4 linked regions of the Homo sapiens genome follow. The protein of the gene in region 1 interacts with the protein of each later gene in a pairwise test. Each region holds a gene or a part of one and is shown in the gene's direction. Other genes may lie near its edges. The genes, in order: NHLH2, MYF5, KCNIP1 and TAF1D.

Evidence for each region.
Region 2: the proteins of NHLH2 (region 1) and MYF5 interact in binary tests that used the Homo sapiens proteins (3 or more experiments, as listed by UniProt).
Region 3: the proteins of NHLH2 (region 1) and KCNIP1 interact in binary tests that used the Homo sapiens proteins (3 or more experiments, as listed by UniProt).
Region 4: the proteins of NHLH2 (region 1) and TAF1D interact in binary tests that used the Homo sapiens proteins (3 or more experiments, as listed by UniProt).

Annotation. Positions count from the first base shown.
Region 1 is NC_000001.11:115,838,127-115,846,461, reverse strand, and holds the start of NHLH2 (helix-loop-helix protein 2), read left to right. Parts: upstream 1-5,335; 5' UTR 5,336-5,514; intron 5,515-5,758; exon of another isoform or gene 5,759-5,917; 5' UTR 5,918-6,246; intron 6,247-8,081; 5' UTR 8,082-8,089; coding exon 8,090-8,335. UniProt on the Homo sapiens protein: Transcription factor which binds the E box motif 5'-CA[TC][AG]TG-3'. Involved in regulating energy expenditure, body mass, voluntary physical activity, mating behavior and reproductive longevity, acting through the hypothalamic-pituitary-gonadal axis.
Region 2 is NC_000012.12:80,712,589-80,721,244, forward strand, and holds MYF5 (myogenic factor 5), read left to right. Parts: upstream 1-4,323; 5' UTR 4,324-4,475; coding exon 4,476-4,976; intron 4,977-5,769; coding exon 5,770-5,845; intron 5,846-6,272; coding exon 6,273-6,463; 3' UTR 6,464-7,083; downstream 7,084-8,656.
Region 3 is NC_000005.10:170,506,431-170,514,763, forward strand, and holds part of KCNIP1 (A-type potassium channel modulatory protein KCNIP1), read left to right. Parts: intron 1-8,333. UniProt on the Homo sapiens protein: Regulatory subunit of Kv4/D (Shal)-type voltage-gated rapidly inactivating A-type potassium channels. Regulates channel density, inactivation kinetics and rate of recovery from inactivation in a calcium-dependent and isoform-specific manner.
Region 4 is NC_000011.10:93,734,727-93,739,488, reverse strand, and holds the end of TAF1D (TATA box-binding protein-associated factor RNA polymerase I subunit D), read left to right. Parts: intron 1-157; 5' UTR 158-184; coding exon 185-252; intron 253-989; coding exon 990-1,380; intron 1,381-2,249; coding exon 2,250-2,425; intron 2,426-2,737; coding exon 2,738-2,795; intron 2,796-3,184; coding exon 3,185-3,328; 3' UTR 3,329-3,922; downstream 3,923-4,762. UniProt on the Homo sapiens protein: Component of the transcription factor SL1/TIF-IB complex, which is involved in the assembly of the PIC (preinitiation complex) during RNA polymerase I-dependent transcription.

The DNA of each region.
Region 1 (8,335 bases):
CCCCTCTCTCCAAAGCCAGCCATAAAACCTAGAAATAGTATTCTAACATTCTCCCATTTTTCTGTGTAAGAGCTGACCATACAGAAATTCTCTGACCTACTCTGTCTGCAAGTAGATTATAAGACCCTCATTCTAAAAGGGGTCTTGCACTATCCCTGGAAAAAGGAATGCCACACAGAGAGACCAAGTAGAATCTTAACAGGCAGGCTTTCCTGGGTTTCCTCATTCAGTCTGTTGCTGTAAGATCATTCCCTTTTTGTCCAGTCGCATTTCTGCACGGCTATCCACTCTGCATCAAATCTAGGCATAAAAATGGACAGTTTTCCTTTGGATCTTTGGGTCTTCATTCTGAAGACTCCTGTGTCATGTAAAACTCTGATTAGATAAATATGTTATGCTTTTCATGTTAACCTGTCTTTTGTTAAAGGAGTGTCAGCTGTGACCCTTATGATGGGTGAGAAAAGACATCACGCCCTTTACCCACTACAGTGACATAAATATCACACATTATGTCTTCTGAATTTTCTAATAGCTTTATTGAGATATACTTAACATACCATAGTTAAGGCACACAGCTCAATGTTTTTTAGTATATTTACAGAGTCATGAAATCATCACCAAAATCTAATTTTAGAATATTTCCATCATCCCAAGATGAAACTCTGCTGATTAGCAATCACTCCCTGGTACCTTTCTTTACCCGATCTTATCCCTGCACAGCCATTAATCTACCTCTGTTTCTATAGATTTGCTCATTCTGTACCTTTCCATATGAATGGAGTCACGCAATATGTGGTCTTTGTGTCTGGCTTCTTTCACTCAGCATAATGTTTTTGAGGTTCATCCATGTTGTCACATGTATTAGTACTTTGTTTCTTTTCTTGCCGAATAGTAGTCTATTGTATGGTTATATCACATTCTGTTTATCCATCCATCAGTTGATGGACCTTTGGGATGTTTCCACTTTTTCTTATTTTTTTTTAAATTGACAAATAAAAATGGTATACATTTATGATGTACAATGTGATGTGTTGATATATGTTTACACTGTGGAATGAGTAAATCAAGCTAATTTACATATCCATCACTTCACATGCTTATCATATTTTGTGATACCATCTGAATTTTTGTATTACATCTCTTTCTGCTATATCAGCCAAAAAACAGATTCTAAATAAATTGATCTTAAAACCAGATGATCAAATCATTATCTCAAAGGGTTAAACAATGAGTTTAACAAAATTAAGCTTATTGCTCTCAGAAGTTATACATGATCAATAAAACCTTATGCTGTTAATTGGTTTTTGTGCTGTTAATAAATAAAATTAATTAGTTTATTAATATTATTTTTAAGTTTATCATATATTTAATAATAAATATGAATATTTAAATTTATAAATGTATCTATTGATAAATACTTACAAATTTTAAAATAAATATTTTTATCATATCTTTGCTTATCTTTTGTATATCATAATTATATAATATACTAGTACAGTAGTACATGTACAAAGCTTATACATGTACTACTGTACTAGTATATTATGTAGTTATAATTGGGTATATACATATAAATATACATATACTCAGTATGTATGCCCTAAATTTTTATCTATGGGGTACAAAATTTTAAAAAATAGGTTGGAAACAGATGTCTCATAAAAGTAACAAATAATTACAAAGCCTTTGTAGTCCAACAGTATCTGGCAAAGCACTAGATGTGCAGTAAGTATTTAAACTACACTGACACTGTGTTAGTCCATTCTCATGCTGATATAAGAACATACCTGAGACTGGGTAATTTATAAAGGAAAAATGTTTAATTGACTCACAGTTCCTCAGGGCTAAGGAGGCCTCAGGAAACTTATAATCATGATGGAAGGGGAAGCAAACATGTCCTTCTTTACAAGGCAGCAGGAGAGAGAAGAATGAGAGCTGAGCAAAGGGGTAAGCTCCCTATAAAACCATCAGATCTCATGATAACTTACTCTTTTCATGAGAATAGCATTCAATTACCTCCTACCCGGGAATTATGGCAAGTACAATTCCAGTTGAGATTTGGGTGGGGACACAGCCAAACCATATCACTCACTAACCACCCCTGAATGCAAAGGTGGCCATTTATCTAAGTTTTGTGTGTACGTGTATTTCTCCCTTGCCATATGCATTTTGGTGAATAGTTCTGTGTGAGTATATCTGTGTAGGATACAATGACAGAAACAGTAGTACTTTGTGTCTGAGAGTGCAGTTTCTGAATTTAGACCACCTGAATCTCTATCTTAGCTCCATAATTTATTAGCTATGTGACCTTGAGTAGATTACCATCTTTTCCATGTCCTAGTTTTCTTATACACAAAATCGGGACAACAGTACCTACCTACCTCACAGGTTTGTGGTGAAGGTTAAATAAGTTAATATGAGCAAAGTCACTATACCTAGGTCTGACACATGGAAAATGCTCATTGTAGTTTGGCCACCAGAGCTATGGACAGACACACACACACACACACACACACACACACACACACACACACACACACGGGTGAGTATATCTGGATATGTTTATTTTTCTATGTCAATATATATCTGTTCCTCAATATGTATTTATACTGAATAATAATAATAATGATAGCCAACACTTACTGAACATGAGTTCTAGGCATTAGTTTAAGCACTTTACATATATTATCTTGTTCACCTTCAGAAAAAAACATGACATAACATTACATAACATGCTTTGATTATTCTCATTTTACAGATTAGAAAACTAAGGTCCAAAAAGGTTAAGTAACTTACAACTAAATTCACACAGCTAGCATATGACAGAGCCACAAAGCCGGACTTTTTAAGTCACTACTTATCACCTCCCCATTCATTTAATAATATTATTTAATATTACTCTTATAGTCTATAATATCATAATTTGTATGGTGCTTACTATTTCATCAAATATTTTCAAATACATTGGGTCTCATAGCGAGCCTGTGAAATGAGAAGTGCAATATTATTATTCTCATTTTTACAGGAAAGAAAATTGATAGAACTGAACCATGGGTGTCCTTTAGTGGAAGCGTTTCTATGTTACAAATATCTGGGGTACCTCTGTACATAGAGTCACATCATAAATGAACTGAGTACCTATAATGTGTCAAGCTCAGACATTAGTGCTGGGGATATAAGCTACAGACCTCCCCTGGAAGCATCATAGCCTAGGAAGAGAGACCAGTGTGGTAACCAAGAACCAAGAATCACGGTACACAATATGTAGTCTCTAAGGGAGACATGAAAGGAGTGCTTATGGAGCACAGAAGGAGGGGCCATCTGTGCCAGGGAGGTCTTAGAAAAGGCAAAGGGGTGGGGGAGGGGGAGGCTTTGATGGAAGAAAGAATGTGTGTGTGTGAATGTGAATCCATGTCTGTGTCTATGACAGTGTGGCTAGGCATCACTAAGTATGGATCTGAGTGTGTACCTGTTTATACAGGCTTACTTCTGTAAGCATTAATTTTTGTGTATGCTGGCTGCTGGTATAGAATGAGTAAGCCTGAACATAAAAGGGAATTTGTCTGGTATCACACACACCATAGCAGAATTGGACCTGCCCTGATAGGCACACCCTGTCATGACTCCCCAACACCAGGGGAACCAGAGATGCTGGTCCTTTCCCACTGTAGCAGCTGCCCACTCTAGAGCTATGGTGATTAGACCCACCAGTTTTTTTCAATCCATCAGTATGGATGTGTGGTGGTCTAATAGAGCCAGCCAGCTTGTATGATGAAGGGGGAGGAGGTACAGGTGTCTGTGGGTGTGCATCTGTGTGCACACTTCTGGTTGTGTGTGAATGCTTAGCATTGGCTGTTCCTAACTAGAGTGAGAAAACCTCCCTTCTCCCTTCATTGTCACCACCTTGGGGTGTTTATCCACTCACCCATTTCCATTGCCACCTGTATGGGACCGGCTTCCATCTTCACTTTAACGTTCTGGGGATATCTAAAATATACCTCTGTGCTGGGGTTAGGCAGAAGCAAGGCTGGGGAGTGTTGGTGCCCTTATTTGTTGGAGGCACTCCCTCCTTTCCCCGACCCCTGCCCCATTGTGGTCCAGGAATCTCTCAAAGGAGCAAAAATGTGGGCAAAGGCAAATAGTACTTGTGGAAGCCATGAAAAACCCGGAGGGTCACTCCCAGGGGTGGGCTGCTCAATGTGCCTCCCCTGGTGATAAAATCTGCTTTTAGGGCAAAATTAAGGAAGACAAGTGAGGACTCCTCTCTCCACAAATGTTCCCCTAGGAACTGGCGGGGTGGGAGTAAGGCTGTAATGCTCTTTTATTTCTTTAAGCTTGTATGATCAAAACAAGCTAAAATAATCACAAATAATATGTTATTGATATTAACTATGAGTATCTTCATAAAGTGGCAAAATAATTGAACTAGATTTTATTTTTTATTATAAGGTATACAAATTCAGGGCCATGGGATCATGTAAGGCAAAGGCATTATGTACTGGGACACACTGGTAATTTGTGTTTACATCTTGGCACAAGCACTGCCACGCAGTACAATATATTAGCATGTTAAGATGGGCAAGAATGAAGTGCAATAATCAACACATGTAGCATGTCATATTTCAGCTTGAATGAATGAGTGGGTGGAGAGAAAAACAAACATACAGAAAAGTAGAATTATCTCATGTCGTGGTCCGTGAATATGTGGATTCTCTTTCTAGTTCCACCAATGGCTTAATCTATTGAAAGGTTCTTACCATCTATTGATAAGTTAGTCTCATAGCAGATCATTTCTCAAAAATGTTAATATGCTTAATCAAACCTTACTGAAGTATCTTTTAAAATGTAAATGATCTCTAATAAATGTTGGCTGTTGCATGTCTAAATACTTTATTGCAGCATCTTATATAGTATATATTTCCATGTTCTGGACACAAATATTTTTCTAAATATTAAGGGAAAGTGGTGGCTTTGTAATATGCCAGGGGAATTCTTTGATAGTCAATATATTGTTTATTTGTACTTAAATATTTCATCAATAATCTGGAAAAGAGAAATAGCCTGACTACGGCTAGATACTGTTTAGAGGCTAAGATTTCTATCATGAACTGCTTTTCAATTGTTATATTTTATGGCACAGATTCAGTGGGAATCTGATCTGCTAAAATATTTGGGCTGTGAAAACTCCCACACTGTGACAGATGTCAAGTCCAATTAAGTGACTCATGTCCAGGTTTCTGTCCAATAGGATTTCCCATTAAATATCAATTTAGGGGAAAAAAATTCCATCCCCCTTCCTAAGCCTTTATCTCTTCCACCATCTCCAGGCTGAATCAATTGGTACCAGGAGAGCCCAGAAGCCACACACGCATCTCTGCCTCTTTGCTCTGGCTCTCCCACCCTCTTCCCGTCTTTCTCTGCTTCCTTGTCACTGTTACTCCAGGAGACGTTCACTTTTCACCAACCTTTCTCCAAGCATCTCCAAGCCACTGACTATATATATTTTGCTACAAGGTAAAGAGAAGAGGGGCTGGGGACGGGGGATATAGCCAAACCTTGAAAGACTTTGAAACTGGAAAATAGGTGTCTATTTATACAACATACAAGTAAGTGAGGGAAGAGGAAGAGGCAACCTTAGCTCCTAGTTACAGTATTGTGTTCCTGGGAACTGGGGAGATATCAGCTGAACAAAGCCTTATCTCAAAAAAAAAAAAAAAATCACTTCTGAGCAAGATCACATCTCTGTCCTGCACTTCCCAGTTTCTGCTCAGCCGTATTAAGGAAAAGAAAGGCATACGATAGGAGCGGAATCTTATCTTAACCATCTTTCTTATTGATTATTCCGCTATTAGAAAGTGGAGGAATCAGCCCTTTGATGTGATTGTGTTTATCTCTGCATCTCTTTTGTTATTTTTAGAGACCTAGAAGAGGAAAAAAGGCACGAGACTTTTCAACACATCGTTTAAAAAAATCATCAACGAATTTCTTGCAATGTTTGAGAACAATTAAAAGGAAAAAGCGTTTTTTAAAAAATCTATCAACTAAGTGAACAATCATTCATATCGTCTACATCCTGAGATATTATTGTCCCTCGCTGCGGACACCAGCGAGATGACAGCTGCTTTTTCATTTTTGAATGTAATAAATATTTGCTGCTTTTAATATTTTCCGGAATCTCCCCTCGCTATTCCTTGGAATTTTAACTCTAAAGATTGGAGAACAGATTATCAAAAAGGCTTTTGCAAGGTAAGACTCCTTTAAATAATTTTTTTCAGCTTGAAATAAGTTAGATTATTCATACTGTATCTATAGATGCAGTTCATTCCATAAAGAGATAAAACGCATACACGGCATACTATTTATGAATATTTTTAAAGATCTAGAGGAGAATTTAATGTGCTTTGAGGGCAACCCAGGAACTTTTTACCAGAACTACAACTATTTAGTGGCTTATTGTGATTTTCCATTACTCGTCTATTTATTTCTGCCCTTTCAAGCTGACTGTGTAGGTGCAAGTTGTTCTACTCATAAACGTACCCGAGAAAAGCCCGTAGGGAGTCACATGCAGCTCTCTGGGAGCATTTGTTTTTATTTTGCCGTAGAGGACCTGATTTCCTCGCAGGGAAATTAAAGCTGTTTTGGCCCAATTCGCTCCTCTGCAAGTGCGGTGCTGGGAACCGATCACCCATCCCCTTGCTTTTGTTTCTCTAGAAGCAAACGCTCCTATACGTCGCCGACGCGGATTTCTCCCGTGCCGAGCGTCGTGGAGGCTGCCCACGCCGGGGCCCCGAGTTCTCAGCCTGGTCCTCACTCCCGACGCCCAGGGGCGGTGCGTGCAGCCCCTGCAGGGGCCTTTCTCCTCCTGCCGGGCCCTTTCTCGAAGCCCGAATTACCCGGAAGCCCAGCGGTTCTGAGCGGCCCCCTCCCAGAAGGCGCACAGTCCGGGCCAGTGCTCCAGGCGCCCCAGAGAAGCCTGGCCAGGTGGCGTTTCCAAGAGGGCACAGTTAAGTTAGAGGAAGGCTAAGCACCGACATGCCCGGACTTGGCCAGGCCACCCGGGGACAGCTGCAGCCTGCCGAGCTCCGGTTCCGGGAGCGCCCGAACTTTGCCGGCAGAGATGCAGCTCCCGCCGGGACAACACGCGCTGCACCCGCTAGTCCCCGCCTGCCCCGCCCCGGGCCCTTCCCTTCTCTTCCCTTCCCTCTGCATCCTCTCCTCCCTCAGCGGCCCGGCTGCCGGCATTTTCCCGCAAGGTGGTCGCCAGACTGCCGGGCGCATTGTCTGATCCCACGTCGCCGTGTCCCTAGGTCCCCTATGTGTGTGGCTGTCTGCGTGACAGATGGTGCTCCGGGAGCCTGCGAGGGCATCGGAGTCAATTTTCTTTTTAAAGGCTCCCCCACGTTTGTTTAGTCATTTCTTTACGATTTCGGAGAAGCGCGAGGGGTCCAAGAAGCCTTCCCGCCCCCAGCCACTGGCTCTCCGCCTGCGCTCCAGGATGGGGATTCCTGACCGGCCGCACCCCAGAGCCAGGCGCCCCCGGCGCAGCCCCAGACCAGCGCCAGGCCCTCGGGCGCCGCGGCTGCCGGGTTGCTTCGCCGGAGGCCCTCGGGGCGAGAAGTGCACCCCGCGTCTCCCCGCCCCCGTGAAAACCCAGATGTATTCGTTGTTCGAAATCGCTCGTTTGTCCGGGAAGGGGACGAAGGGAGGGAGGAGGAATAGCGCGGTTGGCATTTGGCCGGAAGAGGCACAAAAACCCAGTCGCGACCCCACAGGCCTGCGGTTGTTCCCCAGGCCCAGGGCCACAGGCCCGCTGTGGCCGTCTGCAAGTCGAGGTGTCCAGTCTAGTATGCGGCCTGGGTCAACCGCGTCCCCGCCGGCTCCCGCGCCAGGGCGAGGCGCAGGGCTCGCGCCCTCGGGCCAGATCCTATCGGCGCCCTCCCGCGTCGCGCGCCGGCCTGCTGTGGGGAGGGGGCCCGGGCCGCGCGTCCGCTGGGAGGACCGGCGTGGTAGGCCTCGGCAGCCATCCTTCCAGCAAAATACCCTGATTCCTTTTACTGATTAATTTTCCGACCCCTCCTCAGCCTCCAAAATGATGCTGAGTCCGGACCAAGCAGCAGATTCGGACCATCCCAGCTCGGCGCACTCGGATCCGGAGTCCCTGGGCGGCACGGACACCAAGGTGCTCGGCAGCGTGTCGGACCTGGAGCCGGTGGAGGAGGCCGAGGGCGACGGCAAGGGCGGCAGCCGAGCCGCGCTCTACCCGCACCCGCAGCAGCTGAGCCGCGAGGAGAAGCGCCGCCGCCGGCGCGCCACGGCCAAGTACCGCTCGGCCCAC
Region 2 (8,656 bases), on another chromosome or scaffold:
TTTTTCTTCTAGTAATATTTTATCCCATTTTGTCGTTTCAAAATCGCTCTCCCACAACACCATAGCTGGAATTTTTTTTGACATTTTTTTTAAGCTTTGAATATCTAATTGCCTAATCCAATGCATTGATAAATTATCAATAACATAGTATTTTCTCAAAGAGCCAAACCACCAAGCTATTTCTCTGACAGGCCCCTCCAGTCACTCCCTTAAACTATTACACTTATAAAAGATGATCCTCCATCATAGAGGTTTCACTCTGAAAAAAGCAATTTTTTTGCAAGCCTAGTTCAGAGTCAGTCTGAGATGGAATGGCTATGCCATGTGCTGGAACAAAGATAATGCTGTAAGAACTGGCTACTTTCTGTACTCTCAAGGCTGCTAAATGTCCTTACTTAGGCCTTTGATCTCTCCTGGAAGTCCTCTAATTCAAGCAGAGGCCAATGTCTTCCTCAGCTGTCTTCACAAATTCTTCCAGCAGCTCTGGCAGGTACTAATGTGTTTACTTAGGTGTGCCTGATTCCCAGAGCTAATAGCAATTTGCAATTGTTGAGCACATTGTGAAGTCATCTATAATATAAAAAATATCAAGAACAACTCCCTTAGTCCAGGAGTTGATAAGGATCTGCAGGCAGGGGCAGAAGTGAATTGGAATGTATGTATCCTTCTATATGTATTTGGTTTCTCCCTCCAAGAAAAGCATAGAGAATTTTCAATAATGCAGAAAGCCTAGGGTGGGCAAAATTTATTAGAAGAAGAAGGTATGAGCATCATTTTGCTGGTGTGATCTGTCCATCAATATTAGTGTGTTGCCATAATGCTTAAACTAACACAGATTTCACTTAAAAAAAAAGTTGATGTTACGTAAAGGTCATTGCAGTTAGAACCTGGTTATAATTCTAAATTGTAAGAAAATCAAATGTATTTATTTTTTCAGAATATAAAATGAAATAAATAAATAAATAAATACTTCACCAGAGCCTTAGTGGGTATCCATTTATAGCACCAGAGGTGACTGGGTTTTCTTCCCCTCAACTACCTATGGTTAGACTTTCCTAGCAGACAGTGTTGGAGTGTCATTTCTAATAACCTGTTTACATATGAAATAAATGTGCGTTTTCTCCGCAAGCAAGAAATCCACTTCTTTGCAGAAATAGTGGAAAACTTATTTTCATTCTTTGTGTGAGGAGCAAAAGCCAATCTAATCCGACTTTGAGTACAAAAGGGTGCCCTGAGTAGATCTTTTCAGAGCCATTTTTAAAACTTTTCCCATGCTTCCCTGGCCAACCCACTCAAAAAAAAAAAATGCTTTTCTCTATGTTGCTCACCCAGTTCTTTCTTTTTCCCCTTCCAGGTCTCCCCTGGGAAAAGAGCAGGGAGACCGCTCCTGAATTGGGACACTGTAGCCATCTTTGTGGTGCTGGCTGCCTACTGTCTTAGCATATTGCCTTTTTTTTTTCTCTCTCTCTCTCTCTCTCTTTCTTCTCTCGCCCCTGACAGCGTTTTAAAAGTTTTGTCTTATTTCTTTTTACTTTGGTACTCTGAGATCCTATTTTCAGCACTTGCGTCCCAAGGGCTCTCAAGTCCGGACCCTGTTCTCCTGCTAGCAAGTCCCATTAAGCCGCCGGGCGCTTGTGTTTTCTCGGCTTCTTTAGTTCCACTCGCTCGCGGCACTCTGGTAACTTTGTTTTGAGATCACCTTACCAGAGACAGCTCTAACCTCTGAGAACTACCCTTACTGACAGAGGCTCCTGAGTGACGGCGTCTTCCCAGGCACAGGAGCCAGGGAAAGATGTTGAGTAGCCAGCTTTTGCGAGTTTCTGCTCTGGAGCCCTAAGGAAGCGCACGGAGCCTAAATTAATTGAAGAAGAAAACAAACAAAATCACCTCTAGGAGTAGGAACTATAATGACAGGATGCCTAGTTTCCAATCCTGTATGACCTTGGGGCAAATAACCTAGTCCCTGGAGCTCGAGTTTACTTTCTTTCTACAATGGGCCCAATAATAGCTCCCACAGGGTGGTTTGGAGTATTAATTGTTAAGTTAATCTAAGGAAAGGGTTGAGAACAGTGCGGGGCAAATAGAAAATTCTCAATAATTGTTAGTTAAAAATATTTCGCGCTGAGGGGCTTGAGTACAAATCACGTTAAGTGCTTTCAGAAATTAGCTGAAAGATGAGCAGAAGCGTAACCTCTAACTTTCACTCAAACTTTAAAGACCAAGTTTATTTGTGTCCAAAGCACAAGTCCGAGCTAATTTGTGGACTCCACAGCCAAAAAAATAAAAAAGTGGTCATATGGCTGCTAATAGAAACTGTGGGACTTGGCTGAGAATTCCTGGGGGAGGATATCTACCCACTATTGTATTTCAGAGGTAGCAATGTGCTTTGCATTTGCTGTGCATTTGAATGTTTCCACCAGCGTGGATGGCATCTTAGTTTCCACCTGGGTTCTTCTTGAACTTGCCTCTTTTTATCTGGCGTAGCCCTGGATACCGTATTCATTTCAAAGGCATAGACTTGTTAATAGCCCTAAAAAAGGTGCAGATGGATTTCCCACTGGTCAGATGATTAAGCAGCCCATTGGTGTGAGAGGGAACCTGATTTTCAGGAGAGATCTTTTTCTTAGAGATGACAGGACAGAAGAGAGGAGACAGCAATGGTGTGGCTAGCAAACCTTAGTGACTGACAGTGTCACTCTCCCACCTCTGGTTTTCAAGGTCTTCACTTTAGAGAGATCGCACCCTGAAAAGGTTGCTACTTCTCTGGCCCCTGAAGATGCTGGATCAATGAACCAGTGTTGCTTTAAGAAAATAATTCTGAAAAAAAAGTACAAAGTACCATTCACTGAAAGAAATAATAATAATAATAGGAAGGAAAACTCCCTCCTCCTCGCAATAACTTCGGAGCCACTATATTTATTGAACTGGGTTACCCTAGATTGAGTTGAGAACACTCCTGCTTCTTTCAACGGGGCCACAAGACCTAGTCCAAAACCCCAAGACTAATTGTGTAGACCTTAAGTAATTGCTTTTCCTAAATATAAACAGCACCTCCCCAACCCAAATAACCTGAAAGTGGATTAAGGTTGGAGGAGGATTGGTAAAAGCTGATTAATAGATTCATTCCCACTTAAATGACAACCCTCCCCTCTTGCCTTCTATCCATCGAAGTTCTAAAGACCCTGCTGTGATTGCTTTTCTGGAAGGCTTTTGTCACTGAAGTGTGTGAAGTTACTCCTGGTTTGAGGAGTTGGAAATTTTACACGAGTCAAGGATTGCAGTGGCGGCAGCTGGGACGCATCTGTAACGGTGTTAGTTTGCCTGAAAGCAGAAAATTAGCAACCCCAAAGCCCAGCTTGGCTGTTTAGTCTGTAGAAATGACAGGGCGGAGCAGAAAGAGAGGGAGAAAGGAGACTCACCCCTGGAAAGGGAGTTTGCCGTCGAAAACTGGGCTTCTTCTGTTGGAAATCTTAGAGACACTTTCAGTGCAGGTCTTTGGCCTGCTCAGGATCTAGGGAAGGCCTGGCACAAAGGAGAAGGTGCTCAACAAATACGTACAGAAGGGGAAAATGAAGGAAGCAAGAACGGGAGGAATGTTCCTGGTCACCTGGCCCTCCTGTGCCCCACCTCCTTTTAGATGAGCAGACATACAGGGAGAACTCAGAGCAAGCCCAGTCATGGGAAAAGGAACCTCCCTCCCTACTCTCAATAAGGTAGAGCCTAGAATAAATGACAATCTGAGCAAAACTTTACTCATCTGAAGCTATACAAAATAGATTTGGAAAGGCAAACCCTGTATTCACTCCAAGATTGAAAATGCCACTTCAAGTTTTTAGTAACCGTTATTCAATCCAATTGCTGGAAAAAGTTTTCGAGATAATTGAAGTTCATGAAAAAGAGAAACAAACACCCCCAAATCAGGTGATTCCTCACGCCCAGGATTGGGAGGGCAGGTCGGCTCTTGGTGCCAGCTGAAAGGGATTTCTATTTATTACCACTATTTTAAAATGTGTGTCCAATTGCAAAAAGTTGGACTGCCTTGGTCACTTTTGTGTGAAACACTCCTTAAGTGATCCCTTGTTTTAGCCTATCTAGAGAGTGCAAATGAGCAGGTTGGGGACCCACTGCCGCCCCAGCAGAAATACAGTAAAACCATTAGCGTCAAAAGGGGCAGTACACAGCAGATTGTCTGTAGAGGAAAGGCGGAGGTTTGTCCAGACAGCCCCCGCGGGGGTTGCGGTGGGATATGCTAATAGTGCCTGGCCACTGGGGCCGGCCTCCCTCCCGAAAGAATATATAAAGAACCCCAACCCCAGCTTGTCTACCCAGGCCAACAGGCGTCTGCCCTTGTTAATTACCGGAGCGACAGACTAGGGAGCTCCGCCCGGGATTTGCCCATCGGCGGAGGCGCCAGGCTCCCGTTTCTCCCCATCCCTCTCGCTGCCGTCCAGGTGCACCGCCTGCCTCTCAGCAGGATGGACGTGATGGATGGCTGCCAGTTCTCACCTTCTGAGTACTTCTACGACGGCTCCTGCATACCGTCCCCCGAGGGTGAATTTGGGGACGAGTTTGTGCCGCGAGTGGCTGCCTTCGGAGCGCACAAAGCAGAGCTGCAGGGCTCAGATGAGGACGAGCACGTGCGAGCGCCTACCGGCCACCACCAGGCTGGTCACTGCCTCATGTGGGCCTGCAAAGCCTGCAAGAGGAAGTCCACCACCATGGATCGGCGGAAGGCAGCCACTATGCGCGAGCGGAGGCGCCTGAAGAAGGTCAACCAGGCTTTCGAAACCCTCAAGAGGTGTACCACGACCAACCCCAACCAGAGGCTGCCCAAGGTGGAGATCCTCAGGAATGCCATCCGCTACATCGAGAGCCTGCAGGAGTTGCTGAGAGAGCAGGTGGAGAACTACTATAGCCTGCCGGGACAGAGCTGCTCGGAGCCCACCAGCCCCACCTCCAACTGCTCTGATGGCATGGTAAGCAATAGATCTGGTACCTGCTAGGCTACCCTAATCTTTTCTAAAGTCCTTACACCTCATTTAACCTGGTGTGGTGGGGAGAGTGGGGTGGAGGCAGATGCTGAGTTGCTTTAAAAGAAGAGAGGGGTCCACATTTAGAAAGACTCCCCAAACCGCTGCTGAACAAGATTTTAGTTTAACTTTCTAGCAGGTTCTAGGTGTACACTGTAATCGAGTGTTGACATGGAAGATGGGTGGCTGTGAATGATCACTCAGATGTTTTCTCCATTCCTGAATTTATTTTCAAAATATGCCATCTGTGGATCATGCCCTACGCTAATATCTAAAGGCACCGTTTCTAACTTAATGAGGAAATGGAAAGAAATACCCACACGGCCCCAGTTCCTGCTCCAATGAGGCCTGGCTGAAAGATGTTGATGCATTCTTTTTAGAGGGCGTTTGCTCCAAGGCTGCCAGGTTTTAATGTGTTTTTGCCCTGGGAAAGTGTTCTTTCCCTGAATTAGTGTGGCTTTCTTCTACTCCAATCCATTTTGCATGGTTAACCCAATGCACATTGCTGCTGAATTCCACCCCCTCTTCCCTTTGCTGCTGCTCTCCTCTTCTTCAAGCACAGAGATTGACCTCAGTGCCCTGGGAATTTGGAGAGGGCTAGCCCTTCCTAAATCAAGGCAGTGAAGGTGATTGACAGTGTTCGGTTACAGAGCTGGTGGGCAAGCACAGCCTCACCTTTGGTCAGAACATCTTTTGCCAAGACCTGAAAACAAACTTTGTTGTGTGTCTTGTATTATAGCCCGAATGTAACAGTCCTGTCTGGTCCAGAAAGAGCAGTACTTTTGACAGCATCTACTGTCCTGATGTATCAAATGGTAAGAATTGATAACTTCACAGGAGTTTAAAGACCAGTTCAACCTAACAATTCAGCCTATAAGATTCTGTTCTTGCTGATAGTATTGGGGAAGGGAGAATGGAAGTGATGGTTCTTATAGGGAGGCTTTGGTAAAGCAAAATAAACACATCTTCTGCTCCAAATCCCCCTAGCAGACACGCACGCACACATGCATACACACATGCACACACAATGTTGCTTGAAATATTATCAGGGGGCTTCCCCACTCCCCACGTCTACCCCTCAGGAATTGCCAGATATTTGTTGCAAATTTCTATGTTAGGCTTTCTGTGACCACCTGACCTCTGGGTGTCAGAGGAGCTGACCTACAATTTAAGGAGCAACATAAGCAAATCTGTCTATCTTGGGCTAATTATTTTTTAATGCTTTTCTCCTTGTATCCTTAGTATATGCCACAGATAAAAACTCCTTATCCAGCTTGGATTGCTTATCCAACATAGTGGACCGGATCACCTCCTCAGAGCAACCTGGGTTGCCTCTCCAGGATCTGGCTTCTCTCTCTCCAGTTGCCAGCACCGATTCACAGCCTGCAACTCCAGGGGCTTCTAGTTCCAGGCTTATCTATCATGTGCTATGAACTAATTTTCTGGTCTATATGACTTCTTCCAGGAGGGCCTAATACACAGGAAGAAGAAGGCTTCAAAAAGTCCCAAACCAAGACAACATGTACATAAAGATTTCTTTTCAGTTGTAAATTTGTAAAGATTACCTTGCCACTTTATAAGAAAGTGTATTTAACTAAAAAGTCATCATTGCAAATAATACTTTCTTCTTCTTTATTATTCTTTGCTTAGATATTAATACATAGTTCCAGTAATACTATTTCTGATAGGGGGCCATTGATTGAGGGTAGCTTGTTGCAATGCTTAACTTATATATACATATATATATATTATAAATATTGCTCATCAAAATGTCTCTGGTGTTTAGAGCTTTATTTTTTTCTTTAAAACATTAAAACAGCTGAGAATCAGTTAAATGGAATTTTAAATATATTTAACTATTTCTTTTCTCTTTAATCCTTTAGTTATATTGTATTAAATAAAAATATAATACTGCCTAATGTATATATTTTGATCTTTTCTTGTAAGAAATGTATCTTTTAAATGTAAGCACAAAATAGTACTTTGTGGATCATTTCAAGATATAAGAAATTTTGGAAATTCCACCATAAATAAAATTTTTTACTACAAGAAATATTTTGGCTCATGATCTTTTAAAATAACACCCCAATGGAATTACTGTTCATTGACATGAAATCTTTACATGTGAGCTGAAAATACTTAAACAGTTGGCTTTTCAGATAAGTCTGAATATTTACCATTCTCATGTACCCAGTTTAGGTCCTGTTGATGTCACAAGTGAAAATGTCATATTTTCATTTTAAATATATTTCAAGTGAACCTGCTAAATGAAACTTTTCCTTTATCTTAGAACTGTACCATATACTATCAAGTCGTTTGTGTGTGAAGGGAAGATAGAGGTTATTCAGGACAGTAACACATGCTTTTTTAAAAAAGACTATACAACATCACATCATTTTAATAACTATAGTACAACAGAAGGCATGAGTTAAATCATATTTACTTTTACTACCTGCCTGAAAATATCTTGATAATATATACTAATATTGTCAATAAAATATTTAAAGGTATTGGGCTGATTTTTTTTATATTGCTAGAGTGCCAACATAAGAAAACTTACACAAATTATACTGAAGTGAGACAGACTTGAGTTTTCTTCCTTCTTTTTACAGCCTTTTAAACTTTATTGTATTAATCATATCATGTATGCGTGTGTGTGCATGTGTGTATGTAAAACAGACTTGTCTCATATTCATCACCCTAAATCTCCTCTAGAAAGAACTGATATGAAAAAATTGAACAATTAAGTGGAAAATTAGGTTGAGACAATGATTGGGATAATTATCACAAGTTTACCATTGAGAGAGATTTTAAAAAGAGATTCTTAAAGTATCTAAAGTAGCTATTCACAGAGAACAAATATTGATAATTGTTTAATCCTCTTATATGTACATTGATTTAAAATTCCTAAGGATTTGTGGTTACATACATTAATTTAAAAAAAGCATACAGACTCTTTACTAGAGCTTGGCAATGCTACTGTTCTCAGGAAGGTTTCTCTTTCTCTCTGGTGTGATTTGCTCATGCTTATGCAGTCATGAAGCTTAAAGGAATGGGAATCATTCCATAAGGGAGGTATAAGGGCTGAGTTAAAAAATATGATGGCCACTGTCACTCTGTTAGCATCATGGCCTGACAGGGAACGCTGACTTTTAGCACACAGATATAAGTCTTTACTCATGATTTCAGAGTGTGAGGATTTTACATGAAAAGAATTCAAGAGGGCATGATAGAGATTTGTGTATATGTCCAACATAAGTCTGGGTTATCCACTTTTGTTAGAAACTGTGCTAGGTACATTTTCTCCTTTTGATACTTCTATGGAGACATTGGAGATTTGTTTTTAATAGGATCAGACAGGAAAAAAATTCAAATATTGGTTTAGTTTTTTAAACTTCAATTTTTAAACACATTACCATATTTTGTTTCATTTAATATAATTAAGCAGAAAATATGAAATTTTTGGTTCAAATGAATGAAAATTAAACTTTTTCAAATCAAATCTCAATTGCTTTATAACTTTGCAAGCATACCTAATATTCTCAATGAATATGATAATGATAATTTGAAGTAGTTAGAGCCTTTTCAGTGGTCTGGATATAATACAAGGGGTGGTTAATGTACAA
Region 3 (8,333 bases), on another chromosome or scaffold:
TGTGAGAATCAAATGAATGATGAATAGGGAGCTCCGTGCATAGGGCTGGGAAAAGAGTAAGAGCTCAGACATTGCTGTCTACCATTTCCTTCTCCTGCCCCAAACATCCAGGAATTCACCCTGGATGAATTCCTGCAGGATTCCCAGAGTACAAAGGTCTTTGCTTCTGTCTCCTCGGATTCTAAGAAACAGAAGAGGGGGTACTGGCATTCAGTGTGTCCCTACTGTGTGCTTGCCATAATGCTCGGTGTTTTATCAACAACTCTCATTTAACCCTCACAACAATGTTCGTTTGAGGCTCATAGCAGGTTCGGGGCCAATGGGTGGACTCCCAAGACAAGCTATCGAAGCACTGGGCACTCAGCCCTTCCTGCACAAAGCCCACTGGCGTGAGTTGTCCAGGGGTCCAGCTGCATATGTTCCCCCAGGTATTTGCCCCCGAAGCACAGTCATCTCACTGCCTTGCATAGTGGAATGCTAATCAGCAGAAGACCCTTCTATGGGAGGCAGCTTGGAAACCTGGAGGAAGCCCTGGCTGAGGAGGCTAGTGGTCAGGGAGCCTATCCTGGCCAGGTCACTTTTCCCCACTGGGGCCTCGGTTTCTTCTTTGTAAAGGGAGAAACTTACATTAGGCATTTCCTCAGGTTCCATTTGGTTCTCAAATTCTAATATTTTTATGGTTGATGCTCTCACCAGAGCTGCTGCTATGATCTCAGAGACGTGAGGCTCAGATCTAATTAGAAGCAACCGGAAGAGAGCAGTTGGGATTTTTCAACTCAGGAATCAGTCTCCCTGCTGGGTTCAAATTCAGGCTCTGCCACTTACTAGCTGTATGACTAAGCCTTGTTTTCCTCAACTATAAAACAGAGATAGTAGTAGTTACCATCTTAAAATAGCTGTTGTGTTGTGTGGATTTCAAGGATCATGCAAGTCAAGCATTTAGCACAGTCTCTGCTACATAAGTGGTCAGCAAATTTGAGGTACTATTCAATTTATGGCTCTATTGTTTGGGGCTTCCAAATGTCCAGAGTAAGGCCATTTTCGAAGTAGGCAGTACATCTGAGAGCCTTAACAGCTCATTTCTGGAAACCTTATCCAGCCCTATCCAGATAACTAGGACCAAAAACCCCAGCACACAGATGCTCGTCCCTTGCTTCAACCCTCACTGACCTCTACTCTGTGGCTTGTCCTGAAAACATCAAAGCCTGCTCAATTAAAATCCTGAATGCCTTGATAATACAATTTAGAAACATACATAGTTTTTAAATAGGGCAAAAACTCTGCATGATTAGTGCTGCAAGAAGATATCCAGCCCAACCTGGGTGTTCAGGGAGCGCTCTCTAAAGGCAACAGAAATCTAAAGTAATTTAAGAGCCATGCCACTGAATAAAAATATTCAGGTTCATTTCCTGTCCTTCTCTCTGTTTGGGATCTTTGTGTGTCTTTAATTAAAAGTAGGAGAGCCCTGCTTTTGGGATTCAGCCTCTGCATCCCAGTCCCAGATAGAATTTCTGACTCTAGCAGTTTTGCATGTGCATGACACACCAAGGACACTGCTCCTGGCCTTGAATGGGTAAGTGAGACAGGCTAGGGCATTGAGGAGAACCAGAGGAGGACCATACAGGTGCAGCTGCTGGGCTTGTCAGCGGGGCAGGAGAATTTAGGGACAACATCACTAGACCAAGGCCATCTCAACAGAGAATTGCCTAGAAGCAAATAATCCCACACTACAGGGGTGGCTGGGTTAGAAATCCTCCATGACCGAGTGCAAGCATGCAGAACTTTCTGAAAGGGCTGAGCTTCGGATCTCCAGAATAGTCATAGCATAGGTGAGCTATGACTCAACCCCATGGCTATCAGATGCTTTTTCTAAGGCCACACGGTGAGTTAATAGGGTACTGGTTAATATAGGGCCAAACATGGGAATGTTCCCGATAGTCCCATATTTGCTCCTAGATCAATGAGCACCTCAGGGAACTTATGGAAGCAGAGTGTACCTGATGAGACTGGGTTTAGGGTTTATTGGTCAGGGCAGCATTTTCAACCTAAAGATATGGGAGAGTGACAAGAGACAGACAGGCATAGAGAAGCAGTAGCCGTGTTGTCACATAGTCCTGAGCCCAAGGGGCAGGCCTTTGGCAAGTCATTTCACCTTGTAAATGCTAGTTTCTTTATCTGCAAAAGGAGAATCCTGATGTATAGAAATGTTTGTGCTTTGGTCTTTACCCATCTTTGCATCTTTGCCTGTCCCTTTAATTCTATAATGCTCTCCCACCCCACCCCTTGCTGCCTTGTCTAATAGTTAAAATTCCACCGACATTCCAAGACCTCACTCAGCAATTTCCATATTCAGGAAGCCTTCTCCAAGCCCCAGAGAGAAGTGATTTCTCCCATCTGAATTCCCATATTCTTTTAAGGTGTACATTTTCTTATGACTCACAATCGCGCTTGGAATTAGACAATCAACGGAGGTGTTAACCCCCTTTCCCCACCACCAGAGGTCAGGGTTCTTGGGGGTAGGAGCTCGTCTAACTCATCCTTCACAACTCTCTGCTTGGTTCTGTGCACATAGTAGGTACTTAATAAAAATTTTCCTAGAGTAAACTATAAATAATGGAATGGTTGGCCACTCTCCATTATTTGCTAGAATTGCAGACCCTGCAGGAAAAGTTAGCTTCCCACCGGAATTTCAGTTACCAGCCCTCTGCCAGGAATGAATTCTGTTGTTCGGTCTGCTGGCTTTGAATTGACTTTGTCCATGAAATGTACCGAATCTGTTTACCATTTAGCAGGAAAGTGCTGAGAACAGTGATTCTACTCCCACTCCCTCATAATCACAAAGGTATGAGGAACCCACACCCAGCACCAGGCACAGTTCTGGTCCCTCAATCCCAGAAGAAGCTCAATGGAGCTCAAGATAAACAGAAAGAGAGAGATGGAAAAGAATGGAAGACAGAGGAGAAGGACTTACTGCCTAAAATCAGTGGGATTGTTTTGACTTGGTCTCTGGAAAAGGGCCAAGGCTTAGACCTCTTTGTCTGCCTGGAAGGGCCTTGCTCCATGAATGCTTTGTAAATCTGTAAGTGAATAAGTGAGCATATGCTTTAACAAATAAGTGAAAAGATGAATGATTGAATGAATGGGGGAAGCAGTAAAGGAGTGAATGAATGAAGCAACAAATGAATTATCAACTGAATGACAGAAAGAATGATCGAATAAATGACCACATGAATGAATGAATATGTCCATAAATGAATGAATGATGAAGTGCCAGAACAGCTATAATTAACAGCCTATCTTTTCACAAAGAGCATTGATAGTCATCTCCCCAAAGTTGAAAAATATAAATTCAGTCAAGAAGAGTCCTGGTAATTTTTTGGATACTGGTAGGTGTATAGTGTCTTTGGAGAAGGTGAGGAGATGTCTCTAAGTTTTCACTCTTTTGCTGAAACAAAAGCAGGGACTGACTCACAGTGATTCCCCTTGTCTTCCCTTATATTTCAGGTTCGTTCACCCTTGCCTGGGTGAGATCAGAATCTGTATATTTATCCACTCATTTATTTGTTCACTTAGCCAGTCCCACAATTGTCCTTCAGCATTGCTTCCCTGCCTAAGATCCACTCTGGCTTCCTCATCCTCCCTCTTCCTCCATCTCCTCATTCACCTGGCCAACTCCTACTTATCTTTCAAGGCCTCATTCAATGCCACCGCTCTGGGAAGCCTTTCCTGGCTTCTGTAGGCAGAGCACATCTCTGCCTTCTCTCTTTCCCCATAGCTGCTGCTGCTTCCCTTAACTACAATTCTGAACACACTATGAGGTTGTCATTATGGGTTTACACATTTATCTCTCTGACTAGCTTTCAGGCACTGAGTCTTATCCCAGGGCCTCTGTCAGGCCTGACACTGCATCCAGGCTTGATGGATGCTGGCGGCATGGAGGTAAGGATGGATGGGCCAGAGTGTGCGTTCTTGATGGCTCTGAGCGGTGTGAGAATGCGGCGGTGCAGATGAGGAATCCAGGTCTGCTCCTGGGGAGAAGCTCTGCAAAATTCTGCATAATGGCCGTGGAGCTGATGTTCCCATTCATCAGGCAGGGAAGGAACAGTTTTTAGAAAAGAGAGAGAGAGCCTAAGAGTCCTAGGGCCTTCAGAGAAACATCTCTTTAAATGCTTCCCCTTCCTCCGGGTAGTATTTTAAATAGGTCACCTTCTGGAAGTAGTGGTAGTCAGTTGGGATATTGCTAGCTTCCCGTACCCCAGCCATGGGAGTAGTACTTTGGATTAAATCTTGTTATTCAAGGCCAGACTAAAAGCCTCATTGGTGCGGTGGGGGGAAGTAGGAACCACATTCCACTCAAATCAGGAAGCTAGAAGTAGGATTGCATTATGGCTATGAGCACCGCGTTAAAATAAGAGTCTTGGGATTGAACTCCCTTTCATTGGTTCATAGCTGAGCCTTTCCAGGCCTCAGTTTCCTCTTCTATAAAATGGGGACAGTGGGCCAGGTATGGTGGCTCACATCTGTAATCCCAGCAGTTTGGAAGGTCAAGGTGGACAGATCACGAGGTCAGGAGTTCAAGACCAGCCTGGCCAATATGGTGAAACCCCATCTCTACTAAAAATACAAAAATTAGCCGGGCATGGTGGCATGCTCCTGTAATCCCAGTCACTCAGGAGGCTGAGGCAGGAGAATCGCTTGAACCGAGGAGACGGAGGTTGCAGTGAGCCAAGACTGCACCATTGCACTCCAGCCTGGATGACAGAGCGAGACTCCGTCTCAAAAAAAATAAAAATTAAAAAATGGGGACAATGACAGTGTCTCCCTATAGGGCCACGTGAGGGCCAAGAAGGAATTGAACATGGTGCTGCACACCAGGTGAGTTGGCAGTGCTGGCTTTGCTGCTGCCTTTTGTCCCATCTCAGGACAGGCCCCTTCCTTCTGCCTTGCTCCACTTGGATGATGACGGTGTTACCCTTGGTAATCTCCCCATCCCTTTGAGCTGTGGCCTCTGATTCCAGCCCTCTGAGATCCCGAGCCACCATATCCATGGTCACTGGCATTCTAAGCAGTTTCTCTGGTGATTCCTAAGGGAAGCTGTCAACTTTAGATGGTAAAAGCAATTCCCAACAGTGAGGTATGAAAATGCAGGTCACCCGCCAGGAAGGATAATAATACTAGCTCAAATGACTCTGGCCTCCACCCAGTGCCAGGCACCTTGCTCGGCTCTTTCCTGTGTTATTTTATTAACCCCAACCCTGGAGGACAAGATGCTATTACAGTTCTCATTTTGCAGTTGAGGAACCTGAGGCTCTAAAAAGGGAAGTGCCTTACTAAGGGTCATAGAGCTTGGGAATCGCAGAGCCTGGTTCTGGTTGATCCCAGACCCTGAGCTTCTAACTGCCATACTAACCTCCTCTCCTCCTGGCTTTGCCTCTGGAACCTTAGGGACCTGAGTAGAAAAACAGTCAAAACGGGTGCATGGATGTTGGGGAGAAGGCATTCAAGGATAGACTGAAGCACCTCATTAGCCACACGGAACAACTGAGCTACGTGCAGGCCCTGAGCAAAATGCTTTTAGCCCCATCCCAACCCCGCCTCCCCCTAGATCTGTTTCCATTTCATCTGACACTGTGGAAGCCTGAATATGAAATGATTGGGGGCAGAAGGCCAATTAGCAAATTCATTAATAGGATTAAACATCTCTCCTCTGCTCTAATCATTTATGTGAACTAAAATTTTCTCTCTTTGTTATAGCCATCATTGCCTGTCAGTGAAGATAGAGTGTTTAAATATCTTCCAAGTATGTTAGAATTGCAAACGTTCAGAACCAGGGACCAGGATCAGAGTTTTCACACGGTCCAGGTGGGCAAGGAGATCAGTCGGTTTACAAGTGGTTATCACTGCTAAGAAAAAAACACAAGAACTTGCTAGTACATTTGCAAGTACCTTACTGCTCATCTCCTTTCTCTCCTTAGCCACATGTTGGCCCAAATCACCTGCGTATGTTATACGGTTGTTATGAGCATACACTCCTGGTTAGGCAGACCTAGAATTCAAATCCTGGCTCTGCAACTCATTAGCTGTGTGACATTGAGCAGGTTACCTCGCTTCTGTGAACTTTCATCTCTACATAATCTAGAAAATGAAAGTATTGTTGATAATTCCCTCCCAGGTTGTTATGAGGATTAAATGCAGTCATGCATGTAAGATGCAGCGGTCAGCACTCAGAATGCGCTAAAGGTAAATTGTTACTATCTGGGTCTACTCCACTTAAAGTGTGCTCCTCCAACCAACAGCCTCAGCATCAGTTGGGAGCTTGTTAGAAATACAGAGTCCCGGCCAGGCGCGGTGGCTCACGCCTGTAATCCCAGCACTTTGGGAGGCCGAGGCTGGCGGATCATGAGGTCAGGAGATAGAGACCATCCCGGCTAACACGGTGAAACCCCGTCTCTACTAAAAATACAAAAAAATTAGCCAGGCGTGGTGGCGGGCGCGTGTAGTCCCAGCTACTCGGGAGGTTGAGGCAGGAGAATGGCGTGAACCCAGGAGGTGGAGCTTGCAGTGAGCCGAGATCGCGCCACTGCACTCCAGCCTGGGCGACAGAGCGAGACTCCATCTTGGAAAAAAAAAAAAAACCTCAACTCAGTGAGACCTACCCAGTCAGAACCTGCATTTTAACAAGATCACCAGATGGTTTATATGCCCACTGGAGTCTGAGGAATACTGGCCTAAAGTACAGATTATGGAACTATGTGTATTGTATTACACAAAATTATATATCAAGCCAGAAGAGGCTTTTGCTAAGACTTCTGATTTAAGCCTCATTTTACAAATAAGAAAATAGAATCCAGAGAAGGTGAGTGGTTTGCCCACAATCACACAGCTCAAGTGTTAGGCCTGACATCCGAACCCCAGCCCTGGTCATCTCATATAAATTGTTAAGAAGTCAGATTTCCAGATTTGCATTTCTGCAATCAAGCTTGTCTGTTTTTCTTTCTCTCTCTTTCTTTTTAACAACAAAGAAGTGCAGGATGATGTACGCCCATTAAGTTTTAGTTTACTCATTTTAAATGTTATTCCAGCCAACAGAGATCCTGAATCTTGACTCCACCAGCCATCATCTTAGCTGTACCTCCAAGTTTTCTGCTACCTGAAGAAATGATAAGGAGGCATTCTAGGTCTTTATCTAAGTTGCTTCTAAGAACATGGGCCAGAACAGGGTGCAGGACAGAGCCATGTGGACTGCAACTAGAGACTTGCCTGCATAATGGATTTCACTGATAATGTTCAGAATCCCAGAGCAGGATGGCAGCCTGGTTTACATACAGAGCCTTTGTGTGGGATTTGAAGCCAGAAAATGTGACTAAAGTAGGAGTCTAAACAGACACAGGTAGGGCCTGGGGAATGAAAGTCAAATGCCTTTTCCAGGGGGTCTAGTAGGACCTCTCTGTTGGTGGGGATCCCCCAAAAAAGTAATCTTTTTATTTTTGTAGGAGTCCTGTAATGGTTTCATTATTATTCTCACTTTGCAGAGTAGGAAACGTAGATGCAGGGAGGTTCTTGATTGGCTAGTGATTAGTAAGCAAGGACTTGAAGTGGATCTGATTGCGAGGCACTCCACCACCTGGGCTCCTGCCTGCAGCTGGAGGGCATATCCAGGACAAGCAAGCCTCTGAGCCCCAGGAAGAGGCTGAGCAGTTACAGCTAGTTTCCCAACTCCCAGGAACTGAAAATGACAGCCTCCTCTTGGCCCCATCAGCTCCTCACCCATGCCAACCCTGGACCCAGAGTGAGGGATGTTCTGGTGGAGACCATGAAGCTCCCAGCTGCCTGGGGGAAGCTGGCACATTTGCATCCGTGTGGCTGAGGCTGCACTTTCTCTCCATCTCTGGGATTCGCCCATGTATGACTCTCCCAGATGTCCAAATTGTGCACTCAGCAGGGGTGTCTTCAGGAGGCTTCCCCACCCATCGAAATCAGGGCAGCAAGGGGCTCCCCTTGTCTTCTTCCCTCTTTGCATACATCCAGCCCTGGGCTGATTAGGACTCTAAGCCCTGTAGGCCCTGACACTAAAATAATCAGGTCCTCCCACCACTGCCCCGCCCTGCCTCACCCCACCAAGGGCTACACAGGCATTTCAAAGGAGAAACAGTAAAATAAGTTTAAGGAAGTCTGCCAAATTTGGATTTTTCCCATGTTGACTACTTTAGTGACTTTTCTGAAATAAAATGTGCTTTCAAAACACAATTTTTGATGCCTCTACTTTGCTAGTGCTTTAAGCATCTCTTGAGTGTGCCTGTGAGGTATTTCAGCATTGGAGTTGGAACCAGACA
Region 4 (4,762 bases), on another chromosome or scaffold:
TTTTTAAAGAAACTGATCTGAAATGGATAAGAAGCTTAACCTTGGTAAATGATTTCGCCTGAAATCATTGGCATAGTCTGACCACGTTCAACACTGTAGTAGATACTGTCAATATTTAGGGAAGCTTTGTCATATTTACTAAATTTCATAATTTCAGAAAACTGTTTAAAACAAAGAGCAATTGATGGATAAATCAGGAATAGATTCTCTTGACCATGTGACATCTGATGCTGTGGAACTTGCAAATCGAAGGTGAGTGGATTCAATCATGTTTATTGTATCTGAATTATGAGAAACTATTGTATATAATGAGTGACAGTAAAGATAATTTTCAGGAATTGGGAAAGAAGGAAAACTAGATTTCACTGACCTTCCAAGTTTATCTAGTTACATAGATTGATATAATAGCATTGCAAATACTTTAAATTCAAAATGTGAATATATTATGGGACACATTCGTCGAGAAAAAATGTATTCTTTGGGTCATATTAGCATCTCTTCCAGACTACATCCTCCGGTTCGGTAGGCTGTGTTTGTTTTACTCAGACACTCTTAGCAGTGAACCGAACCATACAGCCTTTTGGAGCTCATACATTGTCTTGAAAGATACAGTTTTTTTGTAAGCTGAGCATAGTGGTGCATGCCATTAGTCCTAGCTAGCTACTTGGGAGGCTGAGGCAGGAGCATCCCTGGAGTTTCCAGGAGTTTGAGGTTGCAGTGAGCTGTGATTGCACCACTGCACTCCAGTCTGGGTGACAGCAAGACGATGTCTACAAAACTCTTTAATAAGAGCTGTAGCATTATGGGCTATTTAAATAGGATGATCAGTAGAAAGGCTAGCTGGTTCTGAGCCCATCCTTTAAAAAATTTTTAATTCTGGGCATGTTTTCTGAGTTGGTCTTGGAAGAAATGTACATTTAGGACTGGGTATTAATGGTAATAAGCAGTAAGAAAAGAAGATGAAATTAATTTTTTTCCCATTTTTCTAGTGATAACTCTTCTGATAGCAGCTTATTTAAAACTCAGTGTATCCCTTACTCACCTAAAGGGGAGAAAAGAAACCCCATTCGAAAATTTGTTCGTACACCTGAAAGTGTTCACGCAAGTGATTCATCAAGTGACTCATCTTTTGAACCAATACCATTGACTATAAAAGCTATTTTTGAAAGATTCAAGAACAGGAAAAAGAGATATAAAAAAAAGAAAAAGAGGAGGTACCAGCCAACAGGAAGACCACGGGGAAGACCAGAAGGAAGGAGAAATCCTATATACTCACTAATAGATAAGAAGAAACAATTTAGAAGCAGAGGATCTGGCTTCCCATTTTTAGAATCAGAGAATGAAAAAAACGCACCTTGGAGAAAAATTTTAACGTTTGAGGTGAGTCAGCATTTTACATACATGGCTACACATAACTCAAGATGCCCAAAATGATTTGTTGGCCAATTTAGAATTGTCTCAGATATACTGGGAACAGACTGTCTGCAATTTTGATACTCTTCTATACTGACTTACCCCTAAAGTCCACCCTATCCTTCAACTGAATCTTGACTTGTATCTCTTAATATAACTACACTTTGCCATATTTAAAAGATAGTGCTCCAAGGCTCTTTGTATAAAATCCTTTGATCTTATCCCATCTCAGGTCTTTAAACACAACCCTAAAACTCAGTGGGGATAATAAAAGCTCACATAACTTGAAATTACTTTTGCAGTAACCTAAACTAAAACCACACATGCCTTATGTTCAGTGGATATATTCTTAAGGCCTAGATGTTTCTAAGCCAATTATCTGAAAAATACGCTAATACTTAGGAGTAGACTTTTTTAAATATTTGAGAGTTGTATGTTGAATGAATTCAGAATTAATTTATGATCCCTTGCCAGAACCTGAAATTTTATTTGGGAGGATTAATACATGTTAATCTCTTCAGTTAATCTCTTAAGTTTAAGGTGATTATAGTAAACATTAGAAATCTTATTCCTGTTTTTACATTTTAAAATGCCTTTAGTAAGTCCCAGACATGACAAGATATGTACTTCACTTTTCCATGTTACCAGCTTAGGTAAATTCATAATTGTAATGTGAATTTTAATAATCAGCATTTGATAAGTCCACAAGTGGGGAGTAGTTAAGATAGCAAATTCAGAGTCTTTGCTAAGGGGGGGCATTGCCCTTTTTGAACATAGGCACCTGCTGGGTCTTAAAAATAAAATCTCGACATACTTATGGTGTTTTTAATATATAGCAAGCTGTTGCAAGAGGATTTTTTAACTATATTGAAAAACTGAAGTATGAACACCACCTGAAAGAATCATTGAAGCAAATGAATGTTGGTGAAGATTTAGAAAATGAAGATTTTGACAGTCGTAGATACAAATTTTTGGATGATGATGGATCCATTTCTCCTATTGAGGAGTCAACGTAAGTGGAATCATATGAAATACTTTGGTAATAGGTTATAAATTAAATTTCTATGTTAATTGCTTCATATTTTGCCTTTAATATAGTTATACTTAAATAATGAACAAAGATACAGAGTATGACAATTGGGATTATTACAGTTGAGCCAAGCTTGGCACACCGTTCATCTAGAATTCTCCAGAACACAAAATTCTCAAATTTTGTGTTTCCTTTGACTAGTATTGCAGTTTCAGTTATATTTCAGAGTGGAATATACAACTAATTAGGTCATCGAAGATTCTGTCATCTCGATGATAAATTTTAATATTACAGAGCAGAGGATGAGGATGCAACACATCTTGAAGATAACGAATGTGATATCAAATTGGCAGTAAGTGACTTATTTTTTTCCTATTCCATTTTGGGAAGGCAGGAGTTGGTTGATACAGAAGGAATTATATTTAGTTTTTCTCTTACACTTCATTTAACTTTTGAAAAGCTCTATAAGTTTACTGCAGGAAATGCAAGAAGGAAAATAATTTTTTAGAGACTTGATAAAGAACATGGGGTTTTCAGTACTATTTTTAATAAGTAGCATTCTGATACATATTATTGCTAGTTAGGATGTCAAATGAAAAAATAAGCAATGTTAATTTGGATTTTTAACATCTACATGTAGTCTCTAGGTTATCTGAAGTAATCCAGGGCATTCAGCTATATGTAATTACTAAACTATTTGAGTTATTGCTTAATCCATGATTTTTTGTTTGTTTTATGCAGGGGGATAGTTTCATAGTAAGTTCTGAATTCCCTGTAAGACTGAGTGTATACTTAGAAGAAGAGGATATTACTGAAGAAGCTGCTTTGTCTAAAAAGAGAGCTACAAAAGCCAAAAATACTGGACAGAGAGGCCTGAAAATGTGACAGGATCATGAATGTCAAAGGTGAAGCATATAGAAAAAACGACTTCATAGAAATGAATAAAGATAAATGTGGATATATGTACCAGTCTGGTGGTGAAGAAATTCTGAAACCCAGAACTTTATAACAAGAAAAAAAATTTTTAACCCTGTGAAGAAGTTTGTGAAAGAAACTTGTGAAGTAGTAATAATTAGAAAAAAAACCATTAAAACACCAGAGAAAATACATAGAAAAATTTGAGAAATTGTCATTTGATTTCTGAATAAGAGCTTACAGGTGTCCTGTGAGTATTGAAACAATGAAATGTAGTGATTTTAATTTTGAAAAGAAAATCTTAAAGTAACTTGACACCCAACCATCTTGAAGAGGGGATTTGAAATGCTGTAATTTTATCCCAGCTTTGTTCAGCCATGACAAGTGACCTGTCAGATGCTTAGTATTGTAATAACCTCATTTCCCTTTCCAAATTTAGAGTATCTTTAATACTATTTTTTTTAGACAGAGTCTCGATCTGTCACCCAGGCTGTAGTGCAATGGCCGCAGTCTTGGCTTACTGCAACCTCCATCTCCCGGGTTCAAGCGATTCTGCCTCAGCCTCCTTAGTAGCTGGGATTACAGGCGTTAGCCAGCACACCCAGCTAGTTTTTGTTTTTTTAGTAGAGACAGGCTTTCACCATGGTCTCGAACTCCTGACCTCAGGCGATCCGCCTGCCTTGGCCTCCCAAAATGCTGGGATTATAGGTGTGAGCCATGGCACCTGGCCTAATACTACTTTTAACTACCATTTTCACTTTTTATTAGTTCAAGAAAAGGCATACACATTTATTCAACATGTATACCTGGGGAGAACCAGTCATTACCCCGATGTTCATTATTTTGATCACCACGATAGAGCTGACTACTCTGCTATGTAGTGCATTTTGGGACTGCACTTATGTATGTTTTTGTTTAACGTGGACAAAGACTTACAGATAGGTGCAAAAAATAAATCCTCTTTTGCAACCCAGAACTCATTGTTCAGTATGAGTTTTGATACATATAAGAAGGGATATTATGATACCTGAGACAGTTGATTGATGGGAGTATTGATAGCCATAAAGGTTGGTTCCAGGCCAGGTGCAATGGGTCAAGCCTGCAATCCCCACACCAAGGTGGGAGTATTGCTTGAAACCAGGAGTTCAAGACCAGCCTAGGCAAGAAAGTAAGAAACACATCTCCACAAAAATTTAAAAATTAGCTGGGTACTGGGGCATGTGCCTGTAGTTGGAGTTACTCAGAAAGGGGGGAGGCTGAGGCAGAGTTGGAGGCTGCACTGAGCTTTGATGGCACCACTGTACTCCAGCCTGAGTAACAAAGACAGACCCTGTCTCTTAAGAAAAAAAGGTTGATTCCAGGCCTGTAGAATAGATAAACAGCATGGGATATGAGGGAAATCCT